Regions from separate parts of the Homo sapiens genome. Here region 2 is linked to region 1. The links come from fine-mapping of genetic effects on gene expression. A gene starts in region 1. The other region holds a variant in brackets. All regions are shown on one strand. Distances are between the middles of the regions.

Region 1 (5,376 bases):
ACTCTTGAATGCACTCACCCCGTAGAAGATGGAATCATGGATGCTGCCAATTTTGAGCAGTTTTTGCAAGAAAGGATCAAAGTGAACGGAAAAGCTGAGAACCTTGGTGGAGGGATGGCGACCATTGAAAGGAGTAAGAGCAAGATCAACGTGACATCCGAGGTGCCTTTCTCCAAAAGGTATTTCAAATATCTCACCAAAACATATATGAAGAATAATTTACGTGATTGGTTGCTCCTAGTTACTAACAGCAAAGATAGCTACAAATTATGTTACTTCCAGATTAACCAGGACAAAGAGGAGGAAGATGAGGATTAAATTTCATTTATCTGGAATATTTTGTATAAGTTTTTCAATAAAACTTGGGAACCAAAAGAAAAAAGAAAGAACACGCGACAAGCGTCAGAAAGACCTAAGTCTCTAAATCTCACATCTCTAGGCTTATTCAGCTGTTAAATGGGGGACTGTACTAGCTATTTCTAATTGACTTACCCATTCTGAAAAACTAAAGTAAGCCCCAATTTCTGCTGAATCCTATTCATTTTTGTTCATTTGCCTCCAACTTCTCTAACATGAGGGATTTATGACCCTTTGAAACAGGTGAGGAAAACCAAAGAAAGGCCAAGATGCCCAAGAAACGTATCATTTGCATGATATTAAAGTTGTAAGCCAAGCTTTTTTATAGGGATGTCTGGATGATTCACTCAGATTAGTGGTAGGCAATAAACGCCTGTACCGAAAATGTTGCATTTTCTGGCACAAAGTCACTGATAAGCACACTGCCTAGCATATAGCAGACACTCAAAAATGCTGGTTGAATGAACAAGGAGCCAACTGACACCTGTTACTCCCTATAAAATCTTTAACTTTCTTAAGCCAAAACTCAAGAAAGATGGTTGTCACATTAAGAACTCTACTAAATATCCTCTGAACGAACGAATCCTTCAAATTCTCAATTATGCTAAATGGAAAAACATAAACAACCGTTGAGAGAAATGCTGAACCAGCGGAAAAAACTTCAAAGCCAAGTTTCAACATTCCCGTAGAGCTAGATACACCCACTGACTGCTGCCAGGGTCAATTTCCCGGCCTCTTCCAGAGCTCATAAGCACCCCCAAAAAGCGCTTAGGAAAAAAAACCCAGCGCCTACTCTACCCTGGTACGCTCGACTCCTCGCACACGTAAACCTTTAAGGTGGATGTCAGTGCAGCCAGCATTGAACAGACGCGAACACGGGGAGACAAAAAAAGCATCTCCCCATATTCACAAGGGTCACCACAGACAAACTCTGAAAAGACCAAATTATTCACAAATCTAAGAGAATTGACAGATCCTCTTTGAGATAAACTATTTTCCTACAGTTTCTGGAGGCAAACAAAAACTCCAAAAACAAGTCGAACGGTCCATCTCCCCACTCCTCTCCCAAGAATGTGGCTGTTTTACATATCACACCCTGGACTCCGACAAGCGAACTCCTAGACCTTCCCGGGGCCTCGGATCGCTGAGTGGCAGAGGAGCTGCCCCGCAGAGCTTTCGGTTGCTTTGGCAGAGTCCCCGTGAGACCTGCCTGCCTGCCCACAAACTCTTCTTGGAGTAAAAGTGAAAGAGAAAAAAAACCCGACTCGTCCACCGTGACGGATGGTGGGGGATTTTAGCAGAGTTGAGTAGCCCAAAGAGGATTCAATTTCCCCCCGCCCTCGGCTGCCTCCTCCCGCTTTCCTGCGAAGCCGGACATGCCTCCTTGGTCCGCGCAAGCCCCACCACCACCCACATGGTGTGTCCGTCCCGGTCAGAGCACAAGAACTTTAAAATGGTGCCTCGGGCCACAAGGCTCATCGGAAAGAGTCACAGAGGCCCACGGCCAGCAAGTGGGCGCGGGGGGTCAGGAAAGGAGGCCCCGGGTGGCGGGTGGGGCGCCCCGGGTGACGCGCGCGTTAGTGGGCGGAGGGAGGCGCACCAGGCAAAGGAAAGGAGAGAAATGGATCGCGGCCCCTTTAAGAGGCCTTCACGGCGCTCAGGAACTGGGGGCCTCTCCACCACCCCCAGCCCGGCGTATGGGGCCCTTCCTTGGGGAGAACTATCTCCAGACCCGCTCCCCGGAGGCTCCCCTCACGCCAGGTCTCGCCCGGCCCTGCCATGGGACGGCGGCTCCTCCTTACCCCGCTGTCTGCCGCCTCTTCCCAGCTCTCAGCGACCTCCTCATCTTCCATCTTACTCGCCGCTTTCCCTCCTCCCCCACCCCCTCCCCGCGCCTGCGCTTTGAAGCGCGCCTCCGTCGCGGGCGCAGGCACGCAAGGCTTTACTCAATGGACCCCGCCCGCTGCCAAGCCCGGAAGAGGCGCCAGGCAAGGTCCCAAGTGTACATTAGGGCAGCCATCTTGGAAGGGGGCAGAGAAGGCGGAAAGATGCCATCTTTCTTAAGGGCCAACGCGTTATCTGTCTTACAGAATGGGCGTTCAAGGGAAGTCCTCATCTCGAGTACCGGAAGTGTGTTCTGTGGAACCATCTTTTCTAAGGGCAGGCAATTAAAGAAAACTTTTTTTCTTTTAAAGTGAGTCGTAGTTTTCCTAAACTACAGATAATGGTATCTTCAGAATTCTGAAAACATTTTTAAACACCAACAAATGATGAAAAATATCTGCTGATGCAGAAAACATTTTATTATTTCTGATAGGGTGAAAATCATTACAGTATTTCCTGCTCATAAAGCAGTATTCTAATCATTTATTAACACTATATCCGCTACCGTAAGGTAAAGACGGTAAAGATAATATTGCACCTCAGTTGGGAGAACCAGTGGGATTCCCAGCTACTAAGTTCTCCTGGGTCTTTAATGGTAGATAAATACGTTAGTATTACCTCTAAAAATTACTGGCCAGGCGCGGTGGCTCACGCCTGTAATCCCAGCACTTTGGGAGGCCGAGACAGGCGGATTACCTGAGGTCAGGAGTTCAAGACCAGCCTGGCCAACATGGTGAAACCCCGTCTCTACTACAAATACAAAAATTAGCTGGGCATGGTGGCACACGCCTATAATCCCAGCTACTCCGGAGGCTGAGGCAGGAGAACTGCTTGAGCCAGGGAGGTGGAGGTTGCAGTGAGCCGAGATCATGCCACTGCACTCCAGCCTGGCCGACAGAGTGAGGCTCTGTCTCAAAAAAAAAAAAAATTATTTATGTCAGGGCAGGCGTAGTGGCTCACACCTGTAATCCCACTTTGGGAGGCCAAGGTGGGCAGATCACCTGAGGTCAAGAGTTCGAGACCAGCCTGACCAACACGGAGAAACCCCGTCTCTACTTAAAATGCAAAATTAGCTGGGCATGGTGGCACATGCCTGTAATCCCACCTACTCGGGAGGCTGAGGCGGGAAGATCGCTTGAGCCTGGGAGGCGGAGGTTGCAGTGAGCCAAGATTGCGCCATTGCACTCCAGCCTGGACAACAAGAGCAAAACTCTATCTCAAAAAAAAGTTATTTATGTGGCCGGGCATGGTGGCTCACGCCTATAATCCCAGCACTTTGGAAGGGTGAGGCGGGGGGATCGCTTGAGCCCTGCAGTTTGAGACCAGCCTGGGCAACGAGGCAAAAGCCCATCTCTACTAAAAAAAAAAAAAAAAGCTGTGTGATCTTAACGCAAGTTACATAAGGATTCTATGTCTCAGTTCCCCAAGTGTATACATTAGAGATAGCTACTTCAAAAGTAGATTGTAAGAATTTAACCAGTTACTATGCTGAAATGCCTAGAACAGTGCCTGACCCATAGTAAGAGTCCTAAGGGTTAGCTATTATCATTATGGGAGTGTCTTGTCTGCCCGAGGAAGATTTATAATTGTCACTTCTGTAATCATCCTTTCTTAAAATATAAGGACAGGGAGATGCCAGGCGCGGTGGCTCACGCCTATAATCCCAACACTGTGGGAGGCTGAGGTGGGCGAATCAGTTGAGGTCAGGAGTTCAAGACTAGCCTGGTCAACATGGTGAAACCCCATCTCTACTAAAGATACAAAAATTAGCCGGATGTGGTGGCAAGCACCTGTAATCCCAGCTACTTGGGAAGCTGAGGCAGGAGAGTTGCTTGAACCCAGGAGGCAGAGGTTGCAGTGAGCCAAGATTGCGCCATTGCACTCCAGCCTGGGCAACAAAGCGAGACTCTGTCTCAAAAAAAAAAAAAAAGGCAGGGAGATAAGCAAACACCATGTGTTTATATTCTTACTGACATGTTCCTGTTTTTCTCTCAGTTTTAAATACATGTCATTCAGTAGTGTTGCATTTGGCTGCTATAACCAAGTTATCTGACTTGGAATGTGTTTTTTCTTGTATTTTTAGTATGCCATTAATCTTTCTGAAGTAAAACCTTCCTGCTGTGAAATTTCATAATTTGTATTCTTTTTTTTTTTTTTTTAGACATAGTCTCACTGTCGCCCAGGCTGGAGTGCAGTGGCGCAATCTTGGCTCATTGCAGCCTCTGCCTCCTGGGTTCATGTGATTCTCCTGCCTCAGCCTCCCGAGTAGCTGAGACTATAGGTGCTTGCCACTATGCCCAGCTAATTTTTGTATTTTTAGTAGAGGCCAGGTTTCACCATGTTGGCCAGACTGGTCTGGAACCCCTAACCTCAGATGATCTGCCTGCCTCAATCTCCCAAAGTGTTGGGATTACAGGTGTGAACCACTCTGCCCGTCCTGTTATTTGTATTCTTAATGATTATCATCATAAACTGCAACCATGTGTTAAATGTTACTGGTCTTTATTTAGAAGCTTAAGTGATATGCTTACTAATTCTCTGGTTTCACAACTTCCTGACTCTGAAATATTGTTCATTTCCAGGGTCTGTCCTCAGTCCACTGTTCTTACCTAGATGTTCATGGTATAAGCCACCCACTGTATGCTGAAGACTGCCAAAGTTGACTTCTAGCTGTGAACTGACCTGGTGTTTCTGATTCTGATTTTTACAGCTAGGCTTCTTATTGCCATCTCCACATGGATATTCCACTAGCAGCTTTTAAGTCTCTAAAACTCAAGTAATTCTCGGCCGAGCGCAGTGGCTCACGCCTGTAATCCCAGCACTTTGGGAGGCCAAGGCAGGCGGATCACGAGGTCAGGAGTTCGTAGACCAGCCCGACCAACATGGTGAAACCCCGTCTCTACTAAAAATACAAAAATTAGCCAGGCGTGGTGGCGCATGCCTGTAATCCCAGCTACTCAGGAGGCAGAGGCAGGAGAATCGCTTGAACCCGGGAGGTGGAGGTTCCAGTGAGCCGAGATCATGCCACTGCACTCCAGCCTGGGTGACAGTGAGATTCCATCTCAAAAAACAAACAAACAAACAAAAACCAAAAAAAAAAACCACACAAAAACTCAGTAATTCTGTTGAGTTCAC
Region 2 (5,376 bases), 27 kb after region 1:
AAAAGGGAGGAGATGGTATTACTATAACTTTTTTTTTTTTTTTTTGAGACAGGATCTCAATCTGCCTCCCAGACTGGAGTGCAGTGGGCGATCACGGTTTACTCCAGCATTGACCTCCCCAGGCTCAGGTGACCCTCCTACCCCAGCCTCCCTAGTAGCAGAGACTACAAGCAGGTGCCACCGTGTCCATTGTTTCTGTAGAGTTAGGGTTTTTTTTTTTTTTTTTTTTTGAGACAGAGTTTCGCTCTTCTTGCCCAGGCTGGAGTGCAATGGCGTGATCTCGGCTCACCGCAACCTCCGCCTCCCAGGTTCAAGCAATTCTCCTGCCTCAGCCTCCTGAGTAGCTGGGATTACAGGCATGTGCCACCACACCCGGCTAATTTTGTATTTTTAGTAGAGACGGGGTTTCTCCATGTTGGTCAAGCTGGTCTTGAACTCCCAGCTTCAAGTGATCCGCCCGTCTTGGCCTCCCAAAGTGCTGGGATTACAGGCGTGAGCCACTGCACCTGGCCTGTAGAGTTAGGGTTTTGCCATGTTGTCCAGGGTGGTCCTGAACCCCTGGGCTCAGGTGATCCACCCACCTCAGACTCCCAAAGTGCTGGGATTACAGACATGAGCCACTGCGCCTGGCCCAGAACTTTTTTTTTTTTTTTTGGAGACGGAATTTCTCTCTTGTTGCCCAGGCTTGAGTACAATGACGCGATCTTGGCTCATCGCGACCTCCGCCTCCCAGGTTCAAGCGATTCTCCTTCCTCAGCCTCCTGAGTAGCTGGGATTACAGGCAGACGCCACTATGCCTGGCTAATTTTGTATTTTTAGTAGAGACGGGGTTTTCTCCATGTTGGTCAGGTTGGTCTCGAACTCCTGACCTCAGGTGATCCGCCCGCCTTGGCCTACCAAAGCGCTGGGATTACAGGCATGAGCCACCGCACCCGGCCCAGAACTTTTAAGAATATCAAATAGTAGGGACCACCACTCAAACTTACTGCCACTTTTTTTTTTTTTTTTTTTTTTTTTAAAAGACGCAGTCTCACTTGGTTGCCCAGGCTGGAGTGCAGGGGTGCAATCTTGGCTCACTGCAACCTCTGCCTCCCCACCTCCCAGGTTCAAGCGATTCTCCTGCCTCAGCCTCCTGAGTAGCTGGGATTACAGGCGTGCACCACCACTCCCAAATAATTTTTGCATTTTCAGTAGAGACGGTGTTTTACCATGTTGGTCAGGCTGGTCTCGAACTCCTGACCTCATGATCTGCCCGCCTCGGCCTCCCAAAGTGTTGGGATTACAGGCATGAGCCACGGCTTCCAGCCTACTACCACTTTTATAGCTGGGACTTTGAGGAGGAATTGCCAAGGGTTGTCTCATGGTTGGTGCTTGAACCATTCTAATATTTATTTGGTTTTGGTTTATCCTTTAAATGTTGGATTTTGCAATAATAAGCAAATATCTGCATATATTCTTTTTTTCTCTTATGCAAAAGGTTTTCCTACTATATACGCTGCTCAGCCTCTTGGTCTTTTCACCTAGTATATTTTGGAGATCATTCCATATTGGAACAGAGGTAGTCCTTATTCATTTCCACACCTACACAGTGAGGATGCACCAGAGTTTGTTCAACTGGTCTGTTTTTGATGGACATTAGTAAATAATGCTTTACTGCTGATTTTTTATAAATAAATTTTGGTATGGTACAATAGAAGAAGTGCTGGGCTGAAAGACAAAAGATACAGTTTCTATTTTTGCTACTCATTGGCTGTATGACCTTAAAGCCACTTAGGTTTTCTGACCTCACTTTCCTCATTTGTGAAATAAGGGTTCAGTTGTTCTATAATATCTACTCCTGCTTATACTATTTTGTATTTTTCTGCAAGTTTTATTAACCGTATTTTAAGCCTATTGCTCAGTAAAGTGTATAAAGCATTGTAAGAAAATTATAAATGAGAACATAAGGTTAAGTTTTAGAAGTAACTTAACCTTGGCATGGCAAAACCCTAACCCTCAGTAGAGGGTTGGCCGGGCGCAGTGGCTCACGCCTGTAATCCCAGCACTTTGGGAGGCCAAGGTGGGTGGATCACTTGAGGTCAGGAGTTTGAGACCAGCCTGGCCAACATGGTGAAACCCCGTCTCTACTAAAAATACAAAAAATTAGCTGGGCGGGGTGGGCGCCTTTAATTCCAGCTACTCGGGAGGCTGAGGCAGGAGAATTGCATGAACCTGGGAGAGGCGGAGGCTGCAGTGAGCCGAGATGGCACTATTTCACTCTAGCCTAGGCAACAAGAGTGAAACTCCGTCTCAAAAAAAAAA[AG/G]TACTACCAAAGGTTTTCTGGATTTGGATCTGTGGTGCTTGTTGATAGAATTAAGATTTCTGCTTTCATGCCTATTTTTCTGAAACAGTCTCCAGGAAATCTACCTGCTAGGTGATTTTTAATTTTTTTAATTTACTTTTTTTTTTTTGAGACTGGAGTCTTGCTCTGTCGCCCAGACTGGAGTGCAGTGGCACGATCACGGCTCATTGCAAGCTCCGCATCCCGGGTTCACGCCATTCTTCTGCCTCAGCCTCCCAAGAGCTGGGACTATAGGCGCCTGCCACCACGCCTGGCTAATTTTTTGTATTTTTAGTAGAGACAGGGTTTCACTGTGTTAGCCAGGATGGTAATTTACTTTTTAAATTTTTTCTTGAGACAGGGTCTTGCTTTATCACCCAGGCTGGAGCGCAGTGGTACAATCATGGCTCACTGCAGCCTGGATTTCCCAGGCTAAGTGATCCTCTACCTCAGACTCACAAGTAGCTGGGACTACAGGTGTGAGCCACCGTGCTTGGCCAGGTGATTTTTATGATCAGGTGAAGCAAAGATTTACTTCATGTGCATATACACCACTGTCCTTTAGGTTTCCTGGGGATAAGATGTAATCAAGACATTATCTACCTTTCATAAATTCATAATCTGTTCAGCTGTGCAAGTATTAACCAAAAATGTGTAATCTGGTTATTGAGAAAATTTACATAAGAACATAACTATGGCTGGGTGTGGTGGCTCATGCCTGTAATCCCAGCACTTTGGATGGCTGAGGCGGGCTGATCATGAGGTCAAGACATCAAGACCATCCTGGCCAACATGGTGAAACTCTGTCTCTACTGAAAATACAAAAATTAGCTGGGCGTGGTGGCACGCACCTGTAGTCCCAGCTACTCGGGAGGCTGAGGCAGGAGAATCACTTGAACCCAGGTGGCGGAGGTTGCAGTGAGCCAAGAACATGCCACTGCATTCCAGCCTGGCAACACAGTGAGACTTCATCTCAAAAAAACAAAAACAAAAAAACTATAACAATATGAAATAGTGTGACATTGTGTCGATAAGTAATGGTATAGATGGACTTCTGGAAATGATTAATGTGGAATGGAGTAGGAAATGACTTGTGATGGAAGGAGGTCCTCTCCTCTGCTCTAGAGAAGTGAGTAGGAGGCAGAAGCAGGAAGGCATTCCTTTGCCCTGACCACCACTAGAAAAAAGATAAATGACCGCTGGGCAGGGTGGCTTACGCCTGTAATCCCAGCACTTTGGTAGGCTGAGATGGGTGGATCGCTTGAGGTTGGGAATTTGAGACCACCTGGCCAACATGGTGAAACCCCATCTCTACTAAAAATACAGAAATTAGCCGGGGGTGATGATGTGCACCTGTAATCCCAGCTACTCAGGAGGCTGAGGCAGGAGAATTGCTTGAATTTGGGAGGCGGAGGTTGCAGTGAGCCGCGATTGTGCCACTGCACTCCAGCCTGGGGAAAAGGGCGAAACACCGTCTCAAAAAAAAAAAAAAAAAAAAAAAAGACAAATGGAAATAAAATGTTCCATTCCATCACAGCATCTTGTTAAAATGTATTATGTTCTTTGCAGAATATTTTTGTTTATCAGTGGGGAAGCTAGGTTTATATGCCACCCGAGAGATTTGATAGGAGCATTGTGGGATTGTAAAGTACTTTGAATTCCTCTTGAAACACTGTTTTTACCATGCTACTGGTCTGCTCACATTTAGTAAATTCCTGGAGACTGCAGAATAATCTCTAGATTGATGAGGCAAAAGGCTAGAGTCAGAACAGTTAGGTAGGTGTCTACTATTTTGGTTCAAGTGTGGATGACAATGCCCAGCATCAAAGCAGGGGGATAACAATAAAAGGTAGGACGTTTTGAAGAAACAGGTAATAGAGGAAAGTGAAAGTCTGTATCCAAGACAAGATGTCATGCAACATTGTTATTCTTTTTTTTTTTTTTTTTTTTTTGGAGATAGGGCCATACTCTGTTCCTCAGGCTACAGTGCAGAGGCTCACTGCAGCCTCAACTTCAGTGCTCAAGCGATCCTCCCTCTTTTTTTTTGAGATGGAGTCTCGCTCTGTTGTCCAGGCTGGAGTGCAGTGGAGCATGATCTCAGCTCACTGCAAGCTCTGCCTCCCAGGTTCACACCATTCTCCTGCCTCAGCCTCCCGAGTAGCTGGGACTACAGGCGCCTGCCACCACACCTGGCTAATTTTTTGTATTTTTAGTGGAGACGGGGTTTCACTGTGTTAGCCAGGATGGTCTTGATCTCCTGACCTCATGATCCACCTGCCTCGGCCTCCCAAAGTGCTGGGATTACAGGTGTGAGCCACCGCGCCCGGCCAATCCTCCCTCCTTGGCCTCCCAAAGTGTAGGCGTGAGCCACTGTGTTTGGCCTATTATTCTTTTTTTTTTTTTTTTTTTTTTTTTTTTTTTTTGAGACGGAGTCTCGCTCTTTCTCCCAGGCTGGAGTACAGTGGCGCGATCTCCACTCACTGCAACCTCTGCCTCCTGGGTTCAAGCAATTCTTCTGCCTCAGCCTCCCGAGTAGCTGAAATTACAGGTGCCTGTCGCCGTGCCCAGCTAATTTTTGTATTTTTTGTAGAGGCGGGGGTTTCACCATGTTGGGCAGGCTGGTCTTGAACTCCTGACCTCAGGTGATCCGCCCACCTTGGCCTCCCAAAGTGCTAGGATTACAGGCGTGAGCCACTGTGCCTGGCCTGGCCTATTATTCTTTTGAGGATGGTTTGAAGTTAATTTCAATGACAATTTATAGTATCTCTTAAAAAGAATAAATGGAGTCCTATGATTGGGTTCAAATCTGGTTCTGTGTAATCATGGGCAAGTTAATTTATCTCAGCCTCAATTTTCCTCATCTTATCCTCATCTTAGAATTGATAATATGTTCCTCACAGAGTTGACGTAAAGATTAAATGAGATAAGGCACCTGGCACATGTTCTCAATACCTGTTGATTCCATTTTCTCATCTAGTGTTGATACCAGCTACATTTTAATGGTTACTGAAGACCTTGATACTCAAGGTCCCCAAACTGGCAGTGCTGGCATCATC

The links. PIP is the estimated chance that this variant, and not a neighbour inherited with it, causes the effect.
Region 2: its variant is the best candidate, but not a certain one, in a credible set for the expression of SZRD1 in whole blood (TOPMed, PIP 0.64).

Annotation. Positions count from the first base shown.
Region 1 is chr1:16,364,092-16,369,467 of GRCh38, reverse strand. SZRD1 (SUZ RNA binding domain containing 1) reads right to left here and starts at 2,226. Exons shown (of 4, transcript NM_001114600.3): 1 at 2,160-2,226. The coding sequence starts at 2,210. It also overlaps the pseudogene RPL22P3. RefSeq lists enhancers at 1,430-1,719, 2,470-2,529.
Region 2 is chr1:16,337,251-16,342,626 of GRCh38, reverse strand. The region is part of intron 1 of FBXO42 (F-box protein 42); the gene reads left to right. Among named protein-coding and RNA genes, the nearest start is that of FBXO42, 13 kb to the left of the region's middle. The variant AG/G (reference allele first, on the strand shown) is at 2,302.